3 separate regions of the Homo sapiens genome follow, and all the other regions are linked to region 1. The links come from fine-mapping of genetic effects on gene expression. A gene starts in region 1. Each other region holds a variant in brackets. All regions are shown on one strand. Distances are from middle to middle.

Region 1 (8,065 bases):
GTTTTTCCTGTTCTGGAACTCCGTATAAATAAATTCATACAGGATGTAGTCTTTTGTGTCTGGCTTATTTCACTTAACATAATATTTTTTAGATCATCGATGTTACTGCTTATAATAGCAGTTCTCAATAAATATTGATTAGCTTATTTTAACCACAGTGTTGATTAACCAAGGATTACAGTTGATTAGATGTACTTAAATACAGCTAATATAGCTTGAATGTCTCTTATAAAGCTTTTGCAGGTTCAGAACTGCTATATGTTGTTGACTAGATAAAAGTGGGGCAAGTTTTCTGGGAAAAGAAAAAATGAGGCATCCATCATCTTTTTAGAATTAAAGGAAAAGATATCCAAGGATGATGTTTGAGCACACGAGACAGGTCAGATAGTAACTGACTACAAGCCTCTCCCCTTCTCTCAGGTGTAGGTATGACAGCTAAAGATGGCATTTTCCACAGGAAGGTTGTTCTGGAATATTCATTTACACTTGGAGGCTATACCCCAAAGCAGGACAAGCCCTGCCAAGGGGGAATCTCTGTATTTCAGTTCTCTCGGCAGCAGTTCCTCATTCTCTAAGGAGGGGGCCTGACAACCGGCTTCAAGGAAGCAGAGGATAGAGCTTCCACTCAGTGTCTGTTGTGGTAAACGTGACTGGCTTTTTGGGGGAGTCCCAATTATTTGGAAGAGCCCCAACTGAAAATTTTCAAAAGAATTCCCTCTAGCCCACAACTGCCTTCTCTAAAAGTGGGTTCCCAGGCTCAGGAAGGGTGTGGGACTCTGTGCTATGTGACATAAAAATTTTGTGTTTATCAGTGATTTGACATTCTTGTTAGGTGTAATCAGGTAGTTTTCACCTCTCAGAGTTTATATTTTCTTTCCTATCAGTCAAATGGGCTAAATTCACTGGTGGACTGGAGGTGACACCAGCTTGCATGTGGCCCAGATTGCAACTGGTGGCACCTGCAATCTCAGGTAGCCCTTCTAGGTGAAGCCAGGTGGAGATCTAAACACTTTAACTAAAGGTCTGGCTCCGCAGCCTCTTTCCTGAGAGCTGTGGGGGGCACAAGGCACAGAATTAAAACAGGGTCCGACATAGGGAACTCCAAGGAGTGTGCTCTTTAAGATCACACCAGCCTTTTTCAGCACCATTTTGCCTTTTTTTTTTTTTTTTTTTTTTTTGAGATGGAGTCTCGCTCTGTCGCCAGGCTGGAGTGCAGTGGCATGATCTCAGCTCACTGCAACCTCCGCCTCCCAGGTTGAAGCTATTCTCCTCTCTCAGCCTCCCGAGTAGCTGGGACTACAGGTATGTGCCACCACGCCCAGCTAATTTTTGTATTTGTAGTAGAGACCGGGTTTCACCATGTTGACCAGGATGGTCTCAATCTCTTGACCTCGTGATCCACCCGCCTCGGCCTCCCAGAGTGCTGGGATTGCAGGCGTGACCCACAGCTCGCGGCCCATTTTACTTTTAAACCGTTATTTAGCACCCAAACTCAGGGATACTTGGGAGTAGAAATTAGAACGGGACAGATAAGTGGGGAGACTGGTGTTGATGGAAACCTCAGTGAGAAAAGTGTAGATGGGATTACAGTTGACAACTGGTTGCCTTGATTTAGGATAATTGGGGAAAGGGAGGCTGGGGCACATTGAAACACCCAGGTTGTCGCTGCCTACCCCAGCTGCTAACATGACCAGCTGTAAACTTGCTCTGTTCTTAGAAACCTCCCTTCCAAAACATGGATTCTCCCGCCAGTGCTCAAGATGGGACACATTACCACTAAGTAAGCACTTTTCTTAGGAGCATTTCTTAGGCTGTTAAAATGCCAAGACTCCTAACCATCCTTGGTAGCTTTGAACCTATGTAAAGAGGTCAGTTAGCTGCCCTAGTTTATTCCTCAGAATGATGAGATTTGGCACTGAAAATATTGTTCATACTGAGCCTCCCATCAAATGCAATAAGTAGATAACCACAAATACCCACCCTTTTATGCTCATAACTCAGCATGTTGGAAACTATTTTCCCTTGACCTATTGCCAGCCCATCACGCCCCACACCCAGGAGAACTCAAGCCCCAAACCGGCCGCTGAATAGTCACGCTTTTCTGCAGGACATACCTACTATTAGGGCCAAAACTTTGTCCACCCTTCAAAGGAAGTCGATGTTTCCATATAAAGGTCCCCTCAAATGCAACAGCAAGCCCGTGGGAGAGGGGTTAGCAGAGGCTACGGCCAGCCCACGGGCTTTCTTCGACCTTGATTATGACCAGGAGTGTAGCTGTTAATTGCGAGGCTTGCCTCAAGGTGGAAAACAGTATCGGTTTCCACTGCCACCCCAGAGAAGGCAAGTTCCGCGGCTGGCGGTGCTGGGGACACGGTCCCTCCCAGGCCCATCTCTTGCCACCCAGAGAGCTGCTCGGAGGCCGCCTACAGGTGCAATCCCGGCACTGCGGCCGGGGCGTCGGGCCGGGGAGGGCGTCCAAGCCCACCAGCATCTCCGCCGGCCCTTCCCAAAGCCTGAACAGGGCCCCGGCGTGCCCGCCGCCTTCTACCCCCGGTTTCCCCGCGCCTCTGCCCCGGCGCGGTTTGGATAGGAAGCTGGGAGCCCTCCCAGGCTCCGCAGACTCGGATTTGGGAGGGGGTGGGACGCGGCCGAGGCTTCCCCTCGAATCTGCGGCAAGCCTGGCTCCAGGAAAGTTTTTCAAAGTTCCCAGCAGCGTCTGCCCAGGTCGCCTCCGCGGGGCGAGCAGACGGCGGCAAGCGCGCCAGCCTCGCCGCCGCCTCTGCCGCCAGCAGAGCGCTCTGGGCGGCTCGCTCGCGGGAAGCGGGCCGAACTCCCGGCGGGCAGGCAGGCCCTCCTCCCGGGGCGAAAGCCGCAGCTGACGCAGGCGGTTCGGAAGGCGGAAGCTGCCCCGCTCCGACCGCTCAGTCAGCGCCGCGGCGCCTACACCTGGGGCCCCGACGCGCGGGCAAAGGCGCACGGCCCGGGGCGCCCGAGGGGGCGGTCCCCGCTGGGGGCCTCCAGGCGTCCCTGAGCAACGATCCCTTCCAAGTACCTCCCCGCACTCTCCCTTCCCTCCTGGCCCGAAGCTCCCGAGGGCGGGGGTTGGTGTGGGGCCCTGGTTCTTCTACGCCGCCCTGAGCATCCCGCTGCCCCCAACCCCTTCCAAGTTCCTCCTCGCACTACCCCCTCCCCAGCAACGTGAAGGGGAGGGGCGTGCCCAGGGTGAGCACGCCCTCTCATGAATATTAATAAGCGCGCATGCGCCCTGCCCGGCGTGCTGGGTAGAGGTGGCCAGCCCCGGCCGCTGCTGCCAGACGGGCTCTCCGGGTCCTTCTCCGAGAGCCGGGCGGGCACGCGTCATTGTGTTACCTGCGGCCGGCCCGCGAGCTAGGCTGGTTTTTTTTTTTCTCCCCTCCCTCCCCCCTTTTTCCATGCAGCTGATCTAAAAGGGAATAAAAGGCTGCGCATAATCATAATAATAAAAGAAGGGGAGCGCGAGAGAAGGAAAGAAAGCCGGGAGGTGGAAGAGGAGGGGGAGCGTCTCAAAGAAGCGATCAGAATAATAAAAGGAGGCCGGGCTCTTTGCCTTCTGGAACGGGCCGCTCTTGAAAGGGCTTTTGAAAAGTGGTGTTGTTTTCCAGTCGTGCATGCTCCAATCGGCGGAGTATATTAGAGCCGGGACGCGGCGGCCGCAGGGGCAGCGGCGACGGCAGCACCGGCGGCAGCACCAGCGCGAACAGCAGCGGCGGCGTCCCGAGTGCCCGCGGCGCGCGGCGCAGCGATGCGTTCCCCACGGACGCGCGGCCGGTCCGGGCGCCCCCTAAGCCTCCTGCTCGCCCTGCTCTGTGCCCTGCGAGCCAAGGTAGGAGCCCTTCTCCGGGCCTCCCTCCCAGCCGTCCTCTCCCTCCCCTCGCGGCGCCCTGGGCGGTTGAGCCCCGCGAGCAGGCTCGGCAGCCCTCGAGCGCCCGACTCCTCGCCCCTGCGCCCGAGCGGCTGCACCTGGGCTGAGCGCGCCAACTCCCCCACGGGAGCCCCTGCCTCCTGAGGGTGACCCCTCCAGGCCGGACAGGGGCGCGTTCGCTCCGCTGTTGCCCCCCGGGAAGTCGTCGGATTTCTTCCGCACTCGTGCATTTTTTTTTTTTTTTGCCCCGGAATCATGTTGAGTCCTTGAACGTAGTTTCGCAAAATTATTTTCACTCGGCGAGGAGGGCTCGTCGGGGCGGGGAGTGGGAGGGAGTCGCCACCTCTATACTCGAAGAAAACAGCTTTCTCCCGCGCTGACCTACCTCCTTCCCTCGCCGGCAGGTGTGTGGGGCCTCGGGTCAGTTCGAGTTGGAGATCCTGTCCATGCAGAACGTGAACGGGGAGCTGCAGAACGGGAACTGCTGCGGCGGCGCCCGGAACCCGGGAGACCGCAAGTGCACCCGCGACGAGTGTGACACATACTTCAAAGTGTGCCTCAAGGAGTATCAGTCCCGCGTCACGGCCGGGGGGCCCTGCAGCTTCGGCTCAGGGTCCACGCCTGTCATCGGGGGCAACACCTTCAACCTCAAGGCCAGCCGCGGCAACGACCGCAACCGCATCGTGCTGCCTTTCAGTTTCGCCTGGCCGGTGAGTGACTACTCGGGAAGGAGGCCGGGCGGAGCCTCACACCCGCGCCTGGCCGAGCCCTGTTATCCCTTGCGAGAGGGATTTAAAGGGCTTTGGCTTGAAACTAGGCGCTAACTGGGGAAATCTCTAGGGGTGGCGGGTGAGGGAGCCGGGACACTATAGTTAGATCTCGGCTGGGGTAGTCGAGGTGGGTCCCATTCCTGCTGCTATTTGCTTAGTGCACAAAAGTGGGGATCCCAGAGGGTTTATGGGACCAGGCTCCTAGGAAGGCCGGTGTAAACTTGCAACTTGAAGTTCCCAGAGTAACTCTCCCGGCCCCAAGCCAAGAGATCGTTGTAGCTGATCTCTTTGCTTAACTAATTAAACCTGGTGCGCCGTGGAAGGCGACTCGGCGCAGTTCTGGCCTGCGAACGCCGTCCAAATTGGCAACCTCCCCTTTCCCGTGAACGGCCGGGAGGGCGGGTGTGTCCTTCCTGGAGGGTGTGGGGGAGTCCGTTTCCCGCTGCTCCCCGGGAGATTTTAGTGTGTGCGGGGGCGCTCTCCAGGTTCGGCTTAAGGGCCGGGGGCGGCCGCCGCAGGAGGAGGTTCTTGGGGCCCTCACAGGAGCTGTAGACCTGGGAACCCCCGCCCGCTGCTGGCCCCTTCCTGCCCCCGCCCCCGAGTGGTGTAGCTCTTGTGGCCTCACTTCCAGCGGTTCCCGGGCTCTGGAACAGCTGTGTTTGCAGACTTCCCCGGGAAGGGCGGGTGCACGGCCCCCGCAAGCCTTCGGGGGCCGTGCCAAGGCTTGGAAGGGGTGGTCTTCTGGAGGTAGTGCCTGAGGGTGTAAGTGATAGGCCCTCATCCCCCCGCCCCATTCCGCCCCCAAAGGAGCTCGAGGCCCGGGCCCAGCTGGCAGATCCTGCAGCGAGGCCCTTGCAACATCCCAAAATGGGTGGAAGGAAGATGGGTGCGATTGCAGAAGGGGAGGAAAGGGAAATGTTGGGGGTGTGCCCTCTGCCTGGCTCCTGCTGTCCAGGAGGCATGACTCATTGCCAAGACTGGGGCTTGGCCTAGCCTGTGCTGGGAGGGTGGGTGGTGAGAGGGGGAGCTCGGTGCCCCAGAGCATTGCTTTCCACCACGTGCTCTAATGGGGTGCACTCTGCTGCCTCCTGTCCGCCGGCTTAGGTTGTGATTCTGGGAGGAGACAGAGGGGAGACTATCTGGCTGTGTCTGTGTATGAAGCTTGGGGTGGCTCTTAAAATCCACGATTACAGGAGCTGGCATTATAAAGTGCCCTCTGCTGTGGGTGAGATAAGACAGTTATCAAAAACTGCCATGAAAAGGGGTTTATAAAAAGAAAAATTAAAACCAACGCTGTCTGTGAAGCTCTCTTGAGGTCCAAGGGCTGTTTCTGTTGTGGGATTTCATTTTTACCAAGAGTATTTATCTTGTTTGTTAATCCCCTATTAGGGAGAACTTTAAGCTAAAGAGTCTGGCTGCGTTTAAATCTGGCTGGCCCAAGCTGACTGTGAATACTCAAACTGCCCTTGAACGTGTGTTTGGAGTTTAGGGGGAAGGGGCCTGCAGGTGGTTCCACCCTCCTGCCGGAGGATCTGTCTGGAGCCCCTCGCTTTTCACAAGACCATAAAAGGAATCTTATTAGTGATGTGGAAAAGCAGCAGCCTGGCTGAGGCTCATTTTGGAGAGTAGGGTCAGAGGGATGGCTAACATGAAAACAAGGAGGCTTGCTCCCTCGCTGGCCAAGGAAAAGTGACCTAGAAAAGTGCGTCTGTCCGCTTTTGACACTTGGTCAGAGTCCTCAATGGAAAACGAGCGGAAATAGTGTGGGAGGGTAGGAGAGGCGATTGATTTGCATTTGCTGGTGCTCTTCTGTGGTTTCAGGCCCCACGGGTCACCAACCATGAAATAGACTCTCGGCTTTTCTCGAATGGGGGAAGACCGATGGGGCACCACTGAAAATGTGGTTCTTTTGAAGTTGGGACAAACGCATGTATCACTCATAAACAAGTCTCCACCCTGATGCCCCAGAAAGGCCTGCTGTGAAACATAAGATTTAATTCTCAAGAGAAATTGGAGTTTAGGTGTATTTGTTTTTCTGTATGTGGTTGGAGAAACGGCACAGTCCGTAACTTTCAAGAATGATTCCAGGCTGAGTAGAAACGTAACTGAAACACTTAAGTAGCTGAGCGAGTATTTAACTAGAGGGCACAGCTTCATTTAGTTTGGCAATTAACTATGTCTTTTAAAACTGATTTCCTTGAATGGGAAATAAATGAACTTAGTACAGAATTCAAGAGATAGCAAGAAAAGGATATATGGTTAAAAACAAAACAAAACTCCAAACCACCTTGGGCTCCCAACCCCTAGCAGGCACAATTACCATTTGCATGAGTCCTCCCAAATTTGCTGACGCTGGGTATCAGCAAAGGGTGCAGGGGTAGGTCAGTGTAGAAGGTCATGTAGTTCATGCTTTTTGTTTGGAATTATGACCCCTATCCAAGCAACTGTTCATGTTCTAGAGAGGACGAGGAGGAAACGATTTGGTCAGATATGAAATACAGTCCATGTTCTGGTGTGCATGTGAAAGGCTTTGTAGAGGTGGCCCTTCCTGTCATATATCATATCTGAGTATGTCCCACGTGGTGTCCCCTGCCCCGGCTCTGGTCTTGGGGTAGTTTTTCACCACTGGCTTCTAATTCTCATACTGTTGCTGCTCTAAGGGGCTTAACTTGCAGCAACTATCTGGATTAATGATTCTCAAATTGGGGGACCAAGTGATAAGAACCATTATTGTGGGAAGTAATTGGGCTTAACAGGAAATAATTTAGGAATTACCACTTATAAATCACTGAAACGGTTAATCTGTACCTCCCAAAATTAGTGCTAAATCCCAGTAGTGCCTGCTTATTAAAAATACATTAGTGTAATTACCACTACTCATCTCCAAAAGCTTTTTGGGAACTTCAGAACCCCAGTTAGCTGTATTGCTGCATCGGTGGCCCCAGAGTGAAATGAATCTAGAGAAACGTTAGGGGAAGAAATTGGGGTATCTGGCTTATTAGCCTCATATTTAAATTCCATTGATCCTATTAAAAGACTTGCTGAGATCAACTTTTTTTTTTTTTTTTTTTTTTTTTTTTTTTTTTTTTTTTTGGAAAATCCAATGAAACGTGATTCTTCTGTGTGAGGGATGCCAGCTTTGGCCCCCTTCATGCTTCAGGCCTGAATGACCAATTGCCACGATGCTAATCACAGAATGTAATTGACAGGCCCTTACTTTTATGCCTTTTGCTGTCTTTTCCAGTCCCTGAGCTTCTGTAGATATGGTGTGGGCACATGGAGGGCTTAAGGATGGGGTTCTGATTTGACCTGCCTCCTTTCTGCAGCCAGGATTTGCATCCTGCCCGTGTAGTCAGCATGTATACAAAGAAAGAGCATGTGTGTACGTATGTGC
Region 2 (8,065 bases), 200 kb after region 1:
GGTGGCTCACACCTGTAATCCGAGCACTTTGGGAGGCTGAGGCGGGTGGAATGCCTGAGCTCAGGAGTTCAAGACCAGCCTGGGCAACACGGTGAAACCCCATCTCTACTAAAATACAAAAAATTAGCCAGGCGTGGCAGAGTGCACCTGTAGTCCCAGCTACTCTGGAGGCTGAGGCAGGAGAATTGCTTGAACCTGGGAAGCGGAGGTTGCAGTGAGCCAAGATCACGCCACTCCCACTCCAGCATGGGCGATAGAGCAAGACTCCGTTTCAAAAAAAAAAAAAAAAAGGGAGATTGTAACAAGGAACACCACAACACACAGATTTCACATCTTAAGCAGCTGAAATAAAATGCCCAAAGAGGATGAGAAGGAGCCTATATAATCTTAAAATAGATATGTTTCCCAGCTGGTATCTTTGATTACTAATTAAGCTAAGGCTTATTTATTTGGTAAATGCTTACCAGTTGCCAGGCATTGTGTTAGAAACCTTTTATGTAACAACCCCATGAAGATTGACACTTATTATCCCCATATTGGAGAGAAGGAACCAAGATCCTAGAGATGAGAAGCAGTCAGGTCCATCTGACAACTGTGCAATAGCCTAACAAGAATTCCCTTCGGCCGGGCACGGTGGCTCACGCCTGTAATCCCAGCACTTTGGGAGGCAGAGGCAAGCGGATCACCTGAGGTCAGGAGTTCAAGACCAGCCTGGCTAACATGGTTAAACCCCATTTCTACTAAAAACACAAAAAATCAGCTCATGCCTGTAATCCTAGCACTTTGGGAGGCCAACGTGAGCAGATCATGAGGTCAAGAGTTTGAGACCAGCCTGACCAACATGGTGAAATCCCGTCTCTACTAAAAATACAAAAATTAGCCAGGCGTGGTGGTGCATACCTGTAACCCAGCTACTCAGGAGGCTGAGGCAGAAGAATCACTTGAACCCAGGAGGCGGAGGTTGCAGTGAGCCGAAATCATGCCACTAAAAGAGCGAAACTCCGTCTCAAAAAAAAAAGAGAATTCCCTTCACAGTCAGGTCAGAAATCTAAGGAACACTGGTATCTTTAGAACCTAAGACACCAAAAACCTGTGTCTGCTCTTGATACGGGAAAACCCACATTAATGCCCTAATAAGACCTCTTAAACTTCGAATAATATTTCTTAGAATTTAAACTGAAGACTGAAGGAAGGAGCTAAGACTCTTGGTTTTGCTGAAATTTGGAAAATCTAGCTTAACTGCAAAAGCATTAATGTTATGTAGTACCATTCACTTTTATTAAACACACATTTAGTTTGAATACTAGTTAATTTAAAAGTGCCCACAATGTTAAAGATAGTGATGGGTAAAACAATGTTCATTATATTCCTTCCCTTTAACAGTTTTACATTTTTCCATTGAGTTTTTTTTATCTACACACACACACATCTCCCATGATCTCTGCAATAAGAGGCTGATTCATGTAAATTTTACAGAAAGCACCCTTCTCTGGATAATTTTAACTTTTCCTAAAAATAAATATTCCAGTCCCCAACCCAAGGAGGGCGCAGCAGATCAAGAATGCACTGTCATGGCAGGTGGAGAATCAGTCATTATGGGAAGTGAAACAGACACACGCGGCATAGGAACTGATACAGCAACATCTGATTCCATCCAGCAACCTTTAAAAATGTAATCATTTTATCAGCTGTTGGTAGACTTTGCACAATGGCTAGCAGTACTACTTGGTGACAATTAAAAATACTAAAGCTACAATGCATTTTTTGTTGTGGAGGAAGTACAAATGGAATGCTGAGTCAAAAGCAAATATGCACACTCATAGATGACTATGGGACACTTTGCAATGCATTCAGTGCTTCAAAATTTAAGATTTAAGACCAGATTCATGCTACTGAAGGTTGGGTCCTCTCCCAACTCACAAGATCATCAAAGAGTAGCCATTCAAAAAAGTTTAGTAGAATGACATCCTCTTTGACACTTTTCTTGACTTTTACAATATTTGGTTTAATTATCATAACAGATATATATATACACACACACACACAGTGAGGGATGTGAAAAACCTTAAAACACTTCAAAATGCACACCGATAATAAAACACATTGCCAAGTTGTAAGTAAAGCAGTTAATTATGACCATCGTCATCCCCAGGAACCAAGAGAAGCTTCTCAAGGGTCAGATTATTCCAGCTACCTCTTGGATGCCCCCGAGGCCTCTCTACAAACTGTAAGTGCTCATTACTATGTTCTGTAAAAAGGCCTGTCTATGAGACTGCCAAAAAGAAACTTTCCAGCAAAGTCTCTAAATTGTAAAGTACTATCATGTAACTTCTGGGGGAATCTATGCCCCTCTTTCTGACAGCTGTCATGCTCAAGGGTGGGCATGGGCAGCCATGTATTTACCATGTGACACTGCCCCGTGCCACAATCGATGAAGCAAAAGTGGACATCTGCCCAAATTCACCTCCAGAAGTTTGCTATTGGGGCAGAAAGTGCAGCAGTTTTGTAGGATATGTCACTTGGGAGGTGAGGAGCCACTATCTTCTGCAACATGAACAAAGGAGCAGAGAGAGGCCAGCAGAGGGAGAATAACAAGGAAGATGCAAAGACCAGAATCCCACTTCTCAAAGAGAGGCCCACAGTGAAGCTGCCTCAGGGCCATGGGCAACCTGAAGCTACCTCCAGGCCCTCACCAGCTCAATAGCACACTGATGCCAGTATGCTGAGACAGTCACACTCCCTTATCATAAACTGCCCATTTCAAGTTCTAGTAGTTTGCGTGGGTGTTACTTCCTTCCAAAGAGCCTTGACTAGCAGTTACGCTAGTCTAAGCTAGTTATTATGACTCTAAATAAGACACTAAGTTCCCTTGGGCAACTTCTGAGATCCTCACTTTCCACTCCCCAGGGATTCTCATCTCATCACTGAAGGAGCTGAACAAGGATGTTTTTCAATGTTAAATTCTATGCATGACCTCAATACACCAAACTGATGGTGGCCGAGCTGTCGGCTGGAGCAGAGACAGGGATCTGGCTCTGGCCCTCCACAGAATGCAGTGCTTCCAGGGAACTCTGCTGAAAGCCCTGACTTGGATGCTCTCTAGGGATCCTGGCTTAGCCTTGGCAGATAATATTCCCAATGAAGAGCAGCTTTACTTGAGCGGCTCCACGTGCTTGCCCAAAGAAGGCAACAGACAGAGGATAAGGAGTGTTACTCAAGTCTGAGGACCAGGAAGCTGGAGAAGATGAGACTCTCTCACCACCCATGGCCTGAACCCACGGCTCCCTGAGGAAAAGCAAATGCTTCCAGTCCTGGATGGTGGCGCCAGAGGGAGGCCGAGGTAAGCTATGATACAGAGATCAGTGGCCAAAGGGCAGCATCATCCCAGGGAACACCCCCAACACCTCTGATTCAGCAGCCCCGATTAGATGGAATAAACTGCTTTTCACTT[C/T]GGAAGTTTGGCTGCAACATAGTGGTAAGGGAGGGAAAAAAAGGAAGTGAACAAGGCGGCCGGCGGAAGTGGAGAGGCTCCAGCCCCAGCCCAGGCCCCCAAGGCCCATCTGGCCTTCCTTCTGGGGTTAACCATGATCCTTATTTGACCACAAATGGGAGCGGGGGAAAAAAGAAAAAGGAAAAAACTCCACAGAGATGTAAATGGAGGACATCAATACCTAAAGTAAAGAAGGGAAGGGGGTCTAGGAAAGAATGGCTCTTAAAAGCAAACTCCAGAGTTCAGACATTGTATGGGGCCTCATTAAATGGCATTAATGACTCCCACGAAGTTAGGGCTTAGAATATATCTGCATAGCTGTGTTATGTGATCTCTCAATATTATTTTGGACTGAAGAATATCTTGTTCAGAACGATGGGCTTTTGTAAGAAGCTCCTTCTTACTTGACAACTTGAAATATTGTTAGACCAGCACACCATTCATAAGCTTTTAAAAAGAACTAATCAGAACTCAGGCAGCTTTGGCCAGGAATGGTGGCTCATGCCTGTAAACCCAGCACTTTGGGAGGCCAAGGAGGATGGATCACCTCAGGTCAGGAGTTCAAGACCAGCCTGAGGCCGAGCACCGTGGCTCACGCCTGTAATCCCAGCACTTTGGAATGCTGAGGCAGGTGGGTCATCTGAGGTCAGGAGTTTGAGACCAGTCTGGCCAACATGGTGAAATCCCATCTCTACTAAAAATACAAAAATTAGCCAGGCATGGTGGCGTGTGTCTGTAATCCCAGCTACTTGGAAGGCTGAAGCAGGAGAATCGCCTGAACCCATGAGGCGGAGGTTGCAGTGAGCCAAGATCACGCCACCACACTCTAGCCTGGGCGACAGAGCAAGACTCCTTTCAAAAAAAAAAAGAAGACCAACCAGCCGGGCCAACATGGTGAAACCCCGTCTCTACTAAACATTTTTTAAAAATTAGCCAGGCGTGGTGGCAGGCGCCTGTAATCCCAGCTACTTGGGAGGCTGAGGCAGGAGAATTGCTTGAACCTGGGAGGTGAAGGTTGCAGTGAGCCGTGATTACACCACTGCATTCCAGCCTGGGTGACACAGTGAGACTCTGTCTCAAAAAAAAAAAAAAGAAACAGAACTCTGGCAGTTTTAAGAAGAATTGCAGAATAAGCTGCTTCAAGACACACTCTGGCAGAAAAATATTAACCACAATGATTATCAATATTTATGACAATGAAGATGAATATTACTAATAATGCCTAACACTTACTAAAATGGTTACTTGGTACTGTGCTAAACACTTTATACGAATCCTTTTATTTAACCCTCTCAATAACCAGTACAATAAAATCACTGCAATGACTGTGGGAGATACTAATGCTGCTGGTCCAGGGAATACACTGAGAACCAGTGCTTTAGAGACAACAGAGATTTTCTTTTCTCCTACTGCCCTTAGTTGCTGAGCTTTCTGACCCCAGTGGTTTCAACCATTTAGCCTGTGAGTAGAAGTGCATGCCCAGTCTCACCTATCAGGCCTGGTTCACAAGCTAAGTACCACCACAGCGTATAACAGCCAGACCGAATGCTGGCCATGCCCCACAGCTATTTTTTTCTTCCAGACAAAAGTTACTAGAATGCCAAATAACTCAGCTGTTCACAGACCAAAATGCATTTTTCAAATTAAGTTATTTTTAAGCCTGCTTTCTTAATAGCAACAATGTTCTAAGGACAATTTATAACAACAAAACAGATAAACAAACTTAACAGTTTTGTTTGAACTCCTGGTCTTAGAAAAATAAGCCAGCATCTGCAAAACACAATTAAACACCTAAACATTTTTATACTTGAATGAAACAAAACAAAACAAAAAAACCTCAATGAATATCTTTAACTATTGTTGGCTTTAAAAGGCCTGTATCAGGTAACAAAGAAGGGAAAAGGGATGGGTGCTAACACCTTCTGGGTCGTGACTCTGTGCTAAGATGGACAATTATTATAGAAGTGAGTTAACATTAATCCTATTTAATTAACCCTATTATTTAACAGATGTGTACAAAAGCTCAGAAAGACTCAAGTCACTTCCCAAGGTGCTGGTCAATCTTAAGGCCCTGGTTCAAACCCAGGCCTTTCTGCCTCCAAAGGCCAAATTATTTCCATTATACCATGCACACAAAAATCCCTTAAATAAAAATGTATAGTATTACCAGGCCGGGCATGGTGGTTCACGTCTGTAATCCCAGCACTTTGGGAGTCCAAGGCACGCAGATCACGAGGTCAGGAGATCAAGACCATCCTGGCTAACACTGTGAAACTCTGTCTCTACTAAAAATACAAAAAATTAGCCGGGCGTGGTGGCAGGCGACTGTAGTCCCAGCTACTCGGGAGGCTAAGGCAGGAGAATAGCGTGAACCTGGGAGGCACAGGTTGCAGTAAGCCGAGATCGTGCCACTGCACTCGAGCCTGGGCGACAGAGCCAGACTCCATCTCAAAAAAAAAAAAAAGTATAGTATTACGGAAATGTAGAGTTTGACAGGCCCTTAGAAACTCCCTAATTCAACATCTCATTTAATAGATAAGAAAACTATAATAAACAAATAAGAAAACTACACTAAACAATTTCCAAAGATGGCCACCAACAATCCCTTCCCTCCTCTGGAGGTACGCTGCTCCTTCCATCAAGAGGCAGTTATTTCCTCTCCTCTTGACCTTGTGATTTGCTGCCCAATAGAATACAGTGGAAATAATAGTGTGCCAGTTCCAGAGGTAGCCCTTAGGAAGCTGGCAGCTTCCACTTTCATGTGCTCTGGGGAAGCTAGATGCCATGTTGTAAGGGAGCTCAAGCCAGATTACTGAGTGATGAGACACCTTGTGAAGAGAGAGGGTATCATTGAGAAGAACTAAACATGTGAGTGAAGTCTTCTAGAGCTTTGTAGCCTGGTCAGTAACCAAATGCATCTGAGTGATTGACCCCAGCCAAAGACAAATAAAGCAGAAAAACTGCCCAGCTGGATTTTCTGACCCATTGAAATATGAGAATAGTGGGGCTTCTTTGTCACACAGATACAGATAACGGAAACAAAAGAGGCTAGCTGACTTGCCCCTAGATAGGAATCAATAGCAAGGACTAAAATCTAACAACCCTAACTTCTAATCCTGACCACCTGCCACTGTAGCCCAAAGTATAAACTGATTAACAAATAGTGCACCCAACAGACTGGCTGCCCTATGGCTTTTCCACAACATCCCATTCAGAAACATGTCTGAAAAAAATTACTGGGCTCATCTGGTCATAACCCAGCTATGCTGGGTGCTCTGGTATCTCTTTTTCACTAACCTTTATTTAATGATATTAGTTTGACACATTAATTTCTCACTGCAAACTACCTGAGGTTAGGGATGGGCAATCATCAGCCTCATCTGTGTCTATAGTGCCTAACCCAGGGCCTTGCATGATGAGGATAAATAAAGATTTGCTAATTGAGCCCTCACATATGAAAAGAATTAGACTACTCCTCACTCCCAAGAATTATGAGACCAGGAACAAATAAGTCAAGGCCAAGTCCCTCAAATACCATACAGCATGTCACTGTAAGATAATAAAATAATTACTGACAGCCTAAGACATGCATAAAATGTTATTTTCCCACTTTCACAGCATTATGTCTTTTATATTAATTTGATATCCAAAAGAAACCCTGTAAAACAGACACTGCTGTTAATCCTACCTTATAGCTGAAGAAATAAGATGCTCAAAGGGGTAATAAAATTCACCCAAAGTCATCCAGTTTTCAAAAGTGAAACCACAACATGCATTCAGGAATCCTGATTAAAAGTCTGATATTTTAATTTTCTAGAATCCTTTCCTCAAAGACTTGATGATCTAAATTTCAAGAAGTGCTATCAAAGAACCTAGAGTAAAATGAATAGATTTAGAGAACCACAAAAATTTAGAACCAGACATGATCTCAATACTAATCAGTAACATATGGTGAATTTTTCAGGTAATAAGGATCCGGATGCTAGACCTGGTACATACCTTACCAGAATCTATATAATGCTATTCCACTGTGGAACAAACAGCATGACATTCTTTTTTCACCTCATATTAAACTCGCAAAATATAGCACAAGTGTGTGCATGTGTGTATGTGAGTGTTTAAGGTAACTATTAATAACCTGATTATTTCCAACAGTCTGAAAATCAGTGTTTTTGTCACATGACACTCACATGGGACAAAGTGACACATATAGAGGCCTAGCTTCCTGTATTACTTAATCATGGATATTCCAAGAGCCTACTACTAGAGAAGTATCTCAAAGCACAATTAGCAAACACTATGCATCGTTACATTATTTGGCTAATGACGGCTACGCTGCTGTACGTTTTTGCCATTTCAATGGAATGTCATTTCCATGGAATTCTCTGGGACTGTAAATTGCAAGGACACTCTCAATCGCTACCCCATCCCTCACTTTCTCAACCAAGCATCCCCCAAACTAAGAGTAATAATAACAAAAAGGAAAGGTGAGTCGGATGAGCAGTAATGGTAATAAAACTATGACTTCAAGGATTTCTTTCCAGACTCGACTGGCCCCCTCCAGCCCTTACTGCT
Region 3 (8,065 bases), 520 kb before region 1:
AATTGTCCTATTTAAATTCTTTACATGTAATTCTTCCTCTTAAACTATTTTGTAAATGAGGAATGGCTTTATGTGTACATTTTAAATCTCTCATAACCTCCAACCACTATATTTATTCATTATTAGACCTCTGTAAACGGCTGCATTGTATCTGAGTTGAAAATATTCATAACAAATGATCAAGGCATTGATTTTCCATGTGCTTCACACATATAATTTTATCTAATCTTCATAAAAACTCTATGACATGTAAGTTGTTATAACTTTCATTTTATAAATGAGAAAATTAAGGAATATGGAGCTAATGTATCCAGACCCAAAACAGAAAGTGGTACAAACTGGGGTTTGGTTTCAGGATGTTCGGCTCCAGAATTCTCATTTTTAACCACTTCACTATACTACAGTTTCAAAAGTGGTTGAGGTAATTGCTTAACTAGTATTTTCAAAATAATAATAGTAATAAAACAATGAAAAATGGTAAACAGCAGTTAAAGAGAATCAGGCCTTTTTGGCAATAGAATGGAAACATTCATTCCTTGTAGTCAATACCCTGTTTTGTGCATGTTTGTGTGTGTGTGTCTGTGTTTGTGAGTGTGCATGATGGTGATGTTTTGTCTCTTTTTCTTTAACCATTTTTTCTTGTAAAATCATATTTTCTCATTCTATTATTCTTACTGTGCTGTGAAAATGACTACGCAGGAAGGCCCTATGCCCCTTCCTGACTGCTGCAGCCCCACTTTCTCTCCCTCAATGTCTCCTGAATGACATTTTCTGTGCAGTTCCAGCAGTTCAGCATGCTCTAATCTTGATAACACCTGCATCAAGAATGGAGGGAGTGTGCTGAGCCAGGCCCAAGCAGGCAGGCTTTGGCTATCAATGCTTCCTCTAGAAGCTGGCTTTTTTTTTTTTCTGGCTTATGTATTCTTTTCCATTTCTGGCCTCATTCCTCCTTGCCAGCCAGTCCTCCCTCTATTCACATGTCATGTGGATCCTTTATTGATCCACATGGACAGTTCTTTATTGGACAGTTCTTGTTAGTTGCATGATCATCATCGATGACAATAGTTCTACCAGGCCAGTAAGGTTATAGGATTGCAGTCTTGCCATGCTCCACAAACATCGAAGTGCCATTCTGTTGCATGTACAATAGCCAAAGTTTGCCACGATTCTTTTTGACCACAGATGAATTCCAGGGAGGTCCTTGTTGAGTAGAAAATGAGTGGAGGCTCACTATGGGTAACCTCTCACCCAAAATTGTCAGCAGCAGTGTGCCCCATCACCAGGAGACAGTTCAGAGCCCTGAACTGGGGACACAGTAGCAACTTTAACACCCAAATCCTACATCATCCTTCAGAATTAGAATCTGGCAGATGCCTAAAGGAGTAATGCCCTATAGATTTAGGATGGTTCATGAGAAAGCAGACTAGCTCTTTCTGGATTTGGGACAGAAGGTACAAAGACTCAATGAGGAAGAGAAAAAGTATTGCTTGGATTCCTAAAGCATGCATTATTTTCTACCCCCTTGTATTATTCTTTCTGTCTCTCTCATCTTTGTGAAGAATTAGAGAAGATTATACGGGTCGGTGAGGAGGGCAATATTGTTATTACAATTATTTCTTCTTTTCTTTCTCCTGAAAAACTCAATGTAGCACCAGCTACATAATCTCATAAAACCACAGAATGACAGACTTGGTAGTTTCTTTAAAATGCATCTAATTCAACCCTTCACTTGCCATATGAGAAAAATCAACCCAGAGAAAATAATGACTTTGTCAAGTTTACATGATTTTCTTGTGGCAGCATAGATGTAAAAATCTAGCTCTTTAGACTTCAGGTCCAGCAGGTGCTTGTTAAAGTTCTGATACTAGAAGGATTAAGCATGTAAAGAATTGCAAGCCCTGAAATGCTGCCTCCTTCCCACAGTGACCATGGATGAGTGGCACTTTATTGGGCAAGTTATGGTGATTCTTTATGTCTCCATATCAGTCCTTGAAATAGGTAACCAGGGGAGTGACCTACATACCCTTCATCCCACTCCAATATAGTCTAGAAAAGGATCAAGTCACCTAGTATTTGTTCACATGCCTCCTTCTCAGAGAGGCCTTGCCTAGGGACCCTTTATGAAAAAGAAGCACCCCTTTCCCCACTCAGCACCCTTCCCCTCAACTCTCAATATTTGGCATATGCTGCTTAATTTTTCTCCACAGCACTATGTATTACCCAATGCATTACAGAGTTGTTTATTGTTTGTTTCTTTCTCCCAAATGTCAAAATAACACAAAATGTAGAAGTTGCTTGAGAGGAACTGAGAAAAATTCCCTACTAATGTCAGGGCTGTCTGGTATTAACTTAAGAGTGCCATAGAAAAACAAAATGGGTTCTTATGCAAAGTGAGTGGGAGTGAGGAAAGAAAGAGAATGAAGGTAAAGCCAAATGAAGGACTGAAAAATCATGTAAGATAAAGGCCACTATCAGACTGGCTCACTAGCAAAGATGTAAAAAGATGTAAATGAGTGACCAAAAAAAAAAAAAAAGTAAGACTTGGAACAGTAAGCAGAGGCAACTGCATCTGTTATTTATTGCTGTGATAATAAATAACACACATAACAAACCAGCCCCAAACTCTGGCTCAAAGCAATAAGATTTATTGAGTTTTTGTGTCTGTAGTTTGGTGATTTGGCCTGGGCTCTGCTGGGCCCATTCATATTTCAGAGGTCAGTTAGCCTTTGGCTGATTTAGGACAGCCTTCGCTAAAACCACTGGGATGACATGGCTCTGTCCCTCATGTCTCATCCTACAGAAGGCTATTCAGGGCATAGTGTCATGGCTGCAACTTACAGGGATTGAGTGGGCAAGAGGAAACACACAAGACATCTCGGGGCTTAGACAAAACTGGCACAGTGTAACCTCCACTATAGGCCCAGCTGTGTCACAAGGCCAATCAATAATCAAAGAGTAGAGAAATAGACCCAGACCTCACCTCTTGATGGGAGGGGCTTCAAATAGCACGGATAGAGGAGAGGCAAAGAATTGGGATCATAATTACAATCTATCTTTGGTCTTATGGCATAGAGCAGGAGAATCTCTGACCCTCTCTAGCACCTCTCCCTGAAGGTGAGACTATTCCCCAAGGGAGATGGGTTTTTGGGAAACTATCTACATGTATATATTCAAATATCTTTGTTTCATATATGTATATGACACAAATACACACACATATAACGCCACTTCCTTTAATACTGTCTTACAAACAGCTCGTTTCAATGTACCCTCCAAAGATGTTGAGTGAGGTAGGCTTCAAGCCCAGTAAAATGAGATCATAAGGAAAATGTAACTTGGGTCTATTTTGGCAGCATCACCACGATGACATGAGAGGCTGAAGTGTACATGGGTGAAGAGCACTCCATCATCTCTCTACCTCAGTCTCCAGAACTTGTCTGGTGTCTTAAGTTATTTATTTTCCACTTTAGCTTTCCCTTCCCCAACCTACAACTGCCTATTTATTCGTGTTGAAGACATTGTGACCCTATCGGACCCGAATCTCAGATGTCCTCTCAAACTTGAGACAGCAGGCCCAGTAATTTCCCCCACCCCACTGAAGTGGCTGGCACCAGTGTGCACCTGGTAGGCCTGCATGTCCCTGGGACTACCTTTTAATCAGGCCAAAACCCTAAATAGGCCCCGCCATCCAGCCACCAGCATCCCTCAGTAGCCTTCAGATTGATACAGAGCTGGTCATTATTTAGAAAGGAAAAAAACTCATTTAGGCCTCTCTGTCTCCTCTCTGCATGCTTATTATTGTAGGTGCAAAATAAAATATGAAAAAGGAAAACCAAAGGCTTGCTCATCCTCTATGACTCTACAGGGGAATTCCAATCACAGGCAGAACACCCTGTCCCTTCCTCCCACCTTTTCCACCCAGCAGAGGAGGAGGAACTGGCCTTGGGGAG[C/T]GAATCATTTTCCTGTTCCACTATCTGTAAGCACATTTTCCAGATCAGTCCTGACTTTCCAATTTCAGAAATCCTCCACATCCAAATGAGGTCCAGTATTGGACCAGCCTCACAATGGACTTCCTACTTCTCATAGGTAAAATGTTCGTCTGCCTGAAAGGAAGCGATAGAGAGAACATGCACACTGTTGGCCAATAAACAGAGCTGCGCTCATGGCAGCTTGGTTTGGGGGGGGGGCGGGGGTCAGGCAGTTATTTTCCATGGGCTGTTAAACAGGAAACTTCGCTGCAGTTAATGTAGCAGGAGAGTTTGGCTAGTCTCTGAAATAAACTTTTGAGAGCCCTTAAGATAACTGTCGCTCACCTTCCAGACTCATTAATCATCGGCAAACTGAAGCTATCCAGTTAGGAGGAAATGAAGAGAGGGCTGTAGAATTCATGTCAAACAGATCATGCTCTTGAACTGGCACCAAACTCCAGAAACTCCAGTGAGAGGCAAATTGTAAGCCAAGGTGCCAAGTTAAATCCTAGCACTGTGATTGTGTGTGTGTGTGCTCGCACATGTGTGTGAGAGAGAGACAGAGACAGAAAGACAGAGAAATATAGAGTGTGTATACTCTATAGAAGTATAGAGTGTGTGTGTGTGTGTGCATGTGTGTGTGTGAGAGAGAGACAGAGAGGAGGGGAAGAGAGAGGATTGAAGACTAAAGAAATAACATGCCTCTGAGATCAAACACTTAAGACCTCAACTCTCAATTCGCTTTCCTTTACTCCCATCTCCAATGAGAATATATTACCCTGTCTGGGGGAAATAGAGTGAAAAGGTGGGAGAGACACAAAAAGAAATAAAGCTACAGAGTCCTGTGTTCCTGACTTCCTCAGAGAGCAAGGTAGATCTTGAAGGACTTCATTTTTCTCCATTAACTTTTATGAAGCCTGACTTGGCTGTAATGTTGTGTAAATGCCAGCCAGTTTCCAGCCAGGCTTTTCCAAGTGCGTCTAATTGCCCACTTTATCACAGGCACTATCAGGTAAATGGTGTTCCACCTCCGCTGGGCCTGCCTGAGGTTGACACTCAGGACTTGTCAGGCAATGGATCACAGAGCCGGCATGGGGGCCCCTCGCCCTGCATTCCTGCATGGGGGTGACAGTAAATTATGACATCTGCCAGGAAGATCAGAACACGGCTGTGCTACCGGATGCACCTAAGCTACACAACTAGGAAGGCTTTTAGGATGTGACTAGAGATGTGTCTGAAAGCTCTTAAAGGGACAAAGAGCCTCTTTCCCCAGCAACAGTGCAGCAGAGATGATCCCTGAACATTTACTTTTCCCTTTGATGATGCTTAATGACCTATTTTTATGTTTGAGTGAATAATGCTGCCTTGCAGTTGTAAAGGGCTCCAGAGTTTAAGTTGCACTTATATCCATCCTCCCAAGATCCTCAGAACCACCCAGAGGGACAGTCAGCATCATGCCCATTGTCCAGGATGAAAAAAAACAACTGAGATCTCAGCAGGCTGAGTGATTTGGCTTGGGTCAAAAAGAACATGAGAGTGCTGTGGCTAGGCCTCAAACCTAGATCTCAAACCCCAAAACATGTGTTGTTTGCTTTACCAAGATTTTTCGCTCCAAAAGTGTTACTGCTTATTGTAGCTTTGGAAGTATGGATTATATTGTTGTACATGTATAGCTTCTATCTTACGTCTTCACAGGACTGACACTGAAGCTTAATATCAAAACAAAACCAAATGTTTTAAACAAGAACAAGAAAGCACACCAAAAATCAAGAGGCAAAAATGAGATAATCTCATTTCAGTGAATTTTCACACAAAAAAATTGTCAACCTATAAGTTTGTAAAGAGAAAAGGGGGTAGGTTCATAGGTGTAAATACCATAAATGCTGACCTAAAATGGCCAAACAACTCTATTTGGTTATAATACAAATTGCTCATTGGAGGCCTGAGGCTCAACATTCAAGACTGTATGCCTGGCACCTTGACTTGTAAATGAGAGACAGACTTTTGACCAGTCAACTCTACACAAAAAGTGGATGATGCAAAGGCACCAAATTTGAATTCATTCCCTTCATGATGTCTTATTTGTTGATGACCCTGAGCAAGTCATCTAACTTCTCTGGGCGTAATTTTCTCACCTTAAAATGTGGATAAAACTACTTAGCTTGTAGAACTGTAGTAAGGACTAAATGAGGTAGTGGATACTTAAGCACTTTGTAAATTATACAGTAAAATTATTTTCAGTAGAAATCACCTGGTATTTATTGAAACTTGTGCCATGCCCTTGGGGATTAAAAAAGAAAGTGTCAGTAATGATTTTATTCTGCATTCAGCCATCATTTATTGAGCACTTGGTATATGCAAGGTGCTCTAATAACAACACTGGGATCCTCTAAATAGAACACTACATGATCATGGAGAGTAGAAGTTAAGTTGGTCAAGGTCAAAGCTACTCCAGATGTATGGATAGGTCTGTATTTCTTTCTTCCAAAATTTATTGAATAGCCACCTGCTATAATAAATTTATAAAACAATGTCTGATATATGGTGTGTGTATGTACATGCACACAGATACAAATAGATTATATTACATTGTGATATATGTCATGACAAAATAATTTTATGAGCCTATTTAAATGATAAAATTTTCTGAAAAAGAAGTTCCAGAAATTTTAATAGAGGCTTTTTGTTCTACAACTGAAACTATTTATACATAAATGCCAAATATTTCCTAATAATGGTTCAACATATAATGGCTCAGATAATGTTTTTCCTCACTGTAGATTTTGGCAATATTGGAGAGAAGTAAATAAATGGATACACTTAACTTAAGTGACCAGGGAATGGAAAAGCTGACAAGTCATAGTAAGCTTGTATGACTGGTAGAATGAGGTTGGTTCACCACAACTAGAAGCCATAAGAATCCTAGCAGAAAAATATGAATGGATGTGGCATCTTCTAGCCTTTCTTGAGTCACAGTCACTATTTCAAAACACTAGTAAAAAACCACCTCAAATACCTAGTGAAGATTTTGAAATACAGTGTGTGTGTGTGTGTGTGTGTGTTTTAAAGATTAAGTGGTTTCCTTGCCATTCACTCTCAAGTTGCAATCCTGAGGTACTTAACCACCACCCCATCTCCCTTCTATTGGCTAAACCTTCCCAAAAAGAATTATTATTATTAATTATAAAATATGTAGAAAATATATAGTCAACGCTGACAACTGGTGTAGCTCAAGTAGGAGTGTGAATATAATTAATATGCAGTATGTTTTATACTCTACTGTAAACAATTGTTTGAAGTTCTACTAAAAAATTACTTGTCTGGTTCTCAGTTAAGATACATTGAGGACATTATTTTCATGCTAAAGCACAGGCTCCTGTGAATCTTGTCACTTAGGAGGCTGGTATTTCACTGAAAACATTCTACCCCAATCTCCACAACTGCCCATGTCCTTCATTGCAGTTAACACACCACGAGAAACACAATGAATGGTATGACCAGAATGGAGGCTTTAGTTTTTCAAGTGGTTTGAAAAACATTGTCCTTTGATTCTTTTATGAGGGTTCCATAATTTCTTGGGGTTTTCCAACTGCTTTTTGATCACTGTCCCTGCCAGCTGCTCTTCTCAGACAGAAACTGGGATACTTGACAGTGGGACAGTGGTTGTGGTAAATTAATAAGGGGAAAAAAAATAAACAGAAGGCCCTTTTCCCATGTTTTCTTTCTTTCTTTTTTTTTTTTTTAACTTTGCAGATCTGTTCACTCTAGAGTTAATTTGGAGCTTGCAGTGCAGGGACCCTGTCTGGCTTTGGTCATTTATCATTCTCTTCTGATGTTGTTCCTTCCTTAGAGAGTCCACAAGTGAGACTCACAGCAGGCAAGTGAATGGATGGTCCTCTCTCCAGGTTCCCACATTTTTCCAGGACATCAGGCTTGCTGGACGCAAAGACAAAGCAAAACTTTCTAGGATTTGTACAGTCCAATCCCTTAGGTTTAATATCATCTAAATTAATAATAGGCAAAGTCTTTCTATAAATAGCTGTATAGTAAATATTTTTGACTTTGCAGGGCATATGGTCTCTATCACAGTTACTCTA

Alleles and levels. Alleles are on the strand shown, and positions count from the first base shown. SD is a standard deviation of normalised expression in the study named. Not every link is listed here.
With allele T in place of C in region 3, the expression in fibroblasts of the gene that starts at base 3,313 in region 1 is higher (moderate effect, 0.54 SD a copy in GTEx).

What was found.
Region 2: its variant is fine-mapped to the expression of JAG1 in whole blood (INTERVAL, PIP above 0.99).
Region 3: its variant is fine-mapped to the expression of JAG1 in fibroblasts (GTEx, PIP above 0.99).

What each region holds. Positions count from the first base shown.
Region 1 is chr20:10,669,247-10,677,311 of GRCh38, reverse strand. It overlaps JAG1 (jagged canonical Notch ligand 1), which reads left to right and starts at 3,313. Exons shown (of 26, transcript NM_000214.3): 1 at 3,313-3,862; 2 at 4,306-4,611. The coding sequence starts at 3,782. RefSeq lists silencers at 2,691-3,090, 6,521-6,570, 6,621-6,670.
Region 2 is chr20:10,470,124-10,478,188 of GRCh38, reverse strand. The region is part of intron 2 of SLX4IP (SLX4 interacting protein); the gene reads right to left. Among named protein-coding and RNA genes, the nearest start is that of SLX4IP, 39 kb to the right of the region's middle. The variant C/T (reference allele first, on the strand shown) is at 3,452.
Region 3 is chr20:11,192,293-11,200,357 of GRCh38, reverse strand. No RefSeq gene overlaps it. Among named protein-coding and RNA genes, the nearest start is that of LINC02871, 170 kb to the right of the region's middle. The variant C/T (reference allele first, on the strand shown) is at 3,951.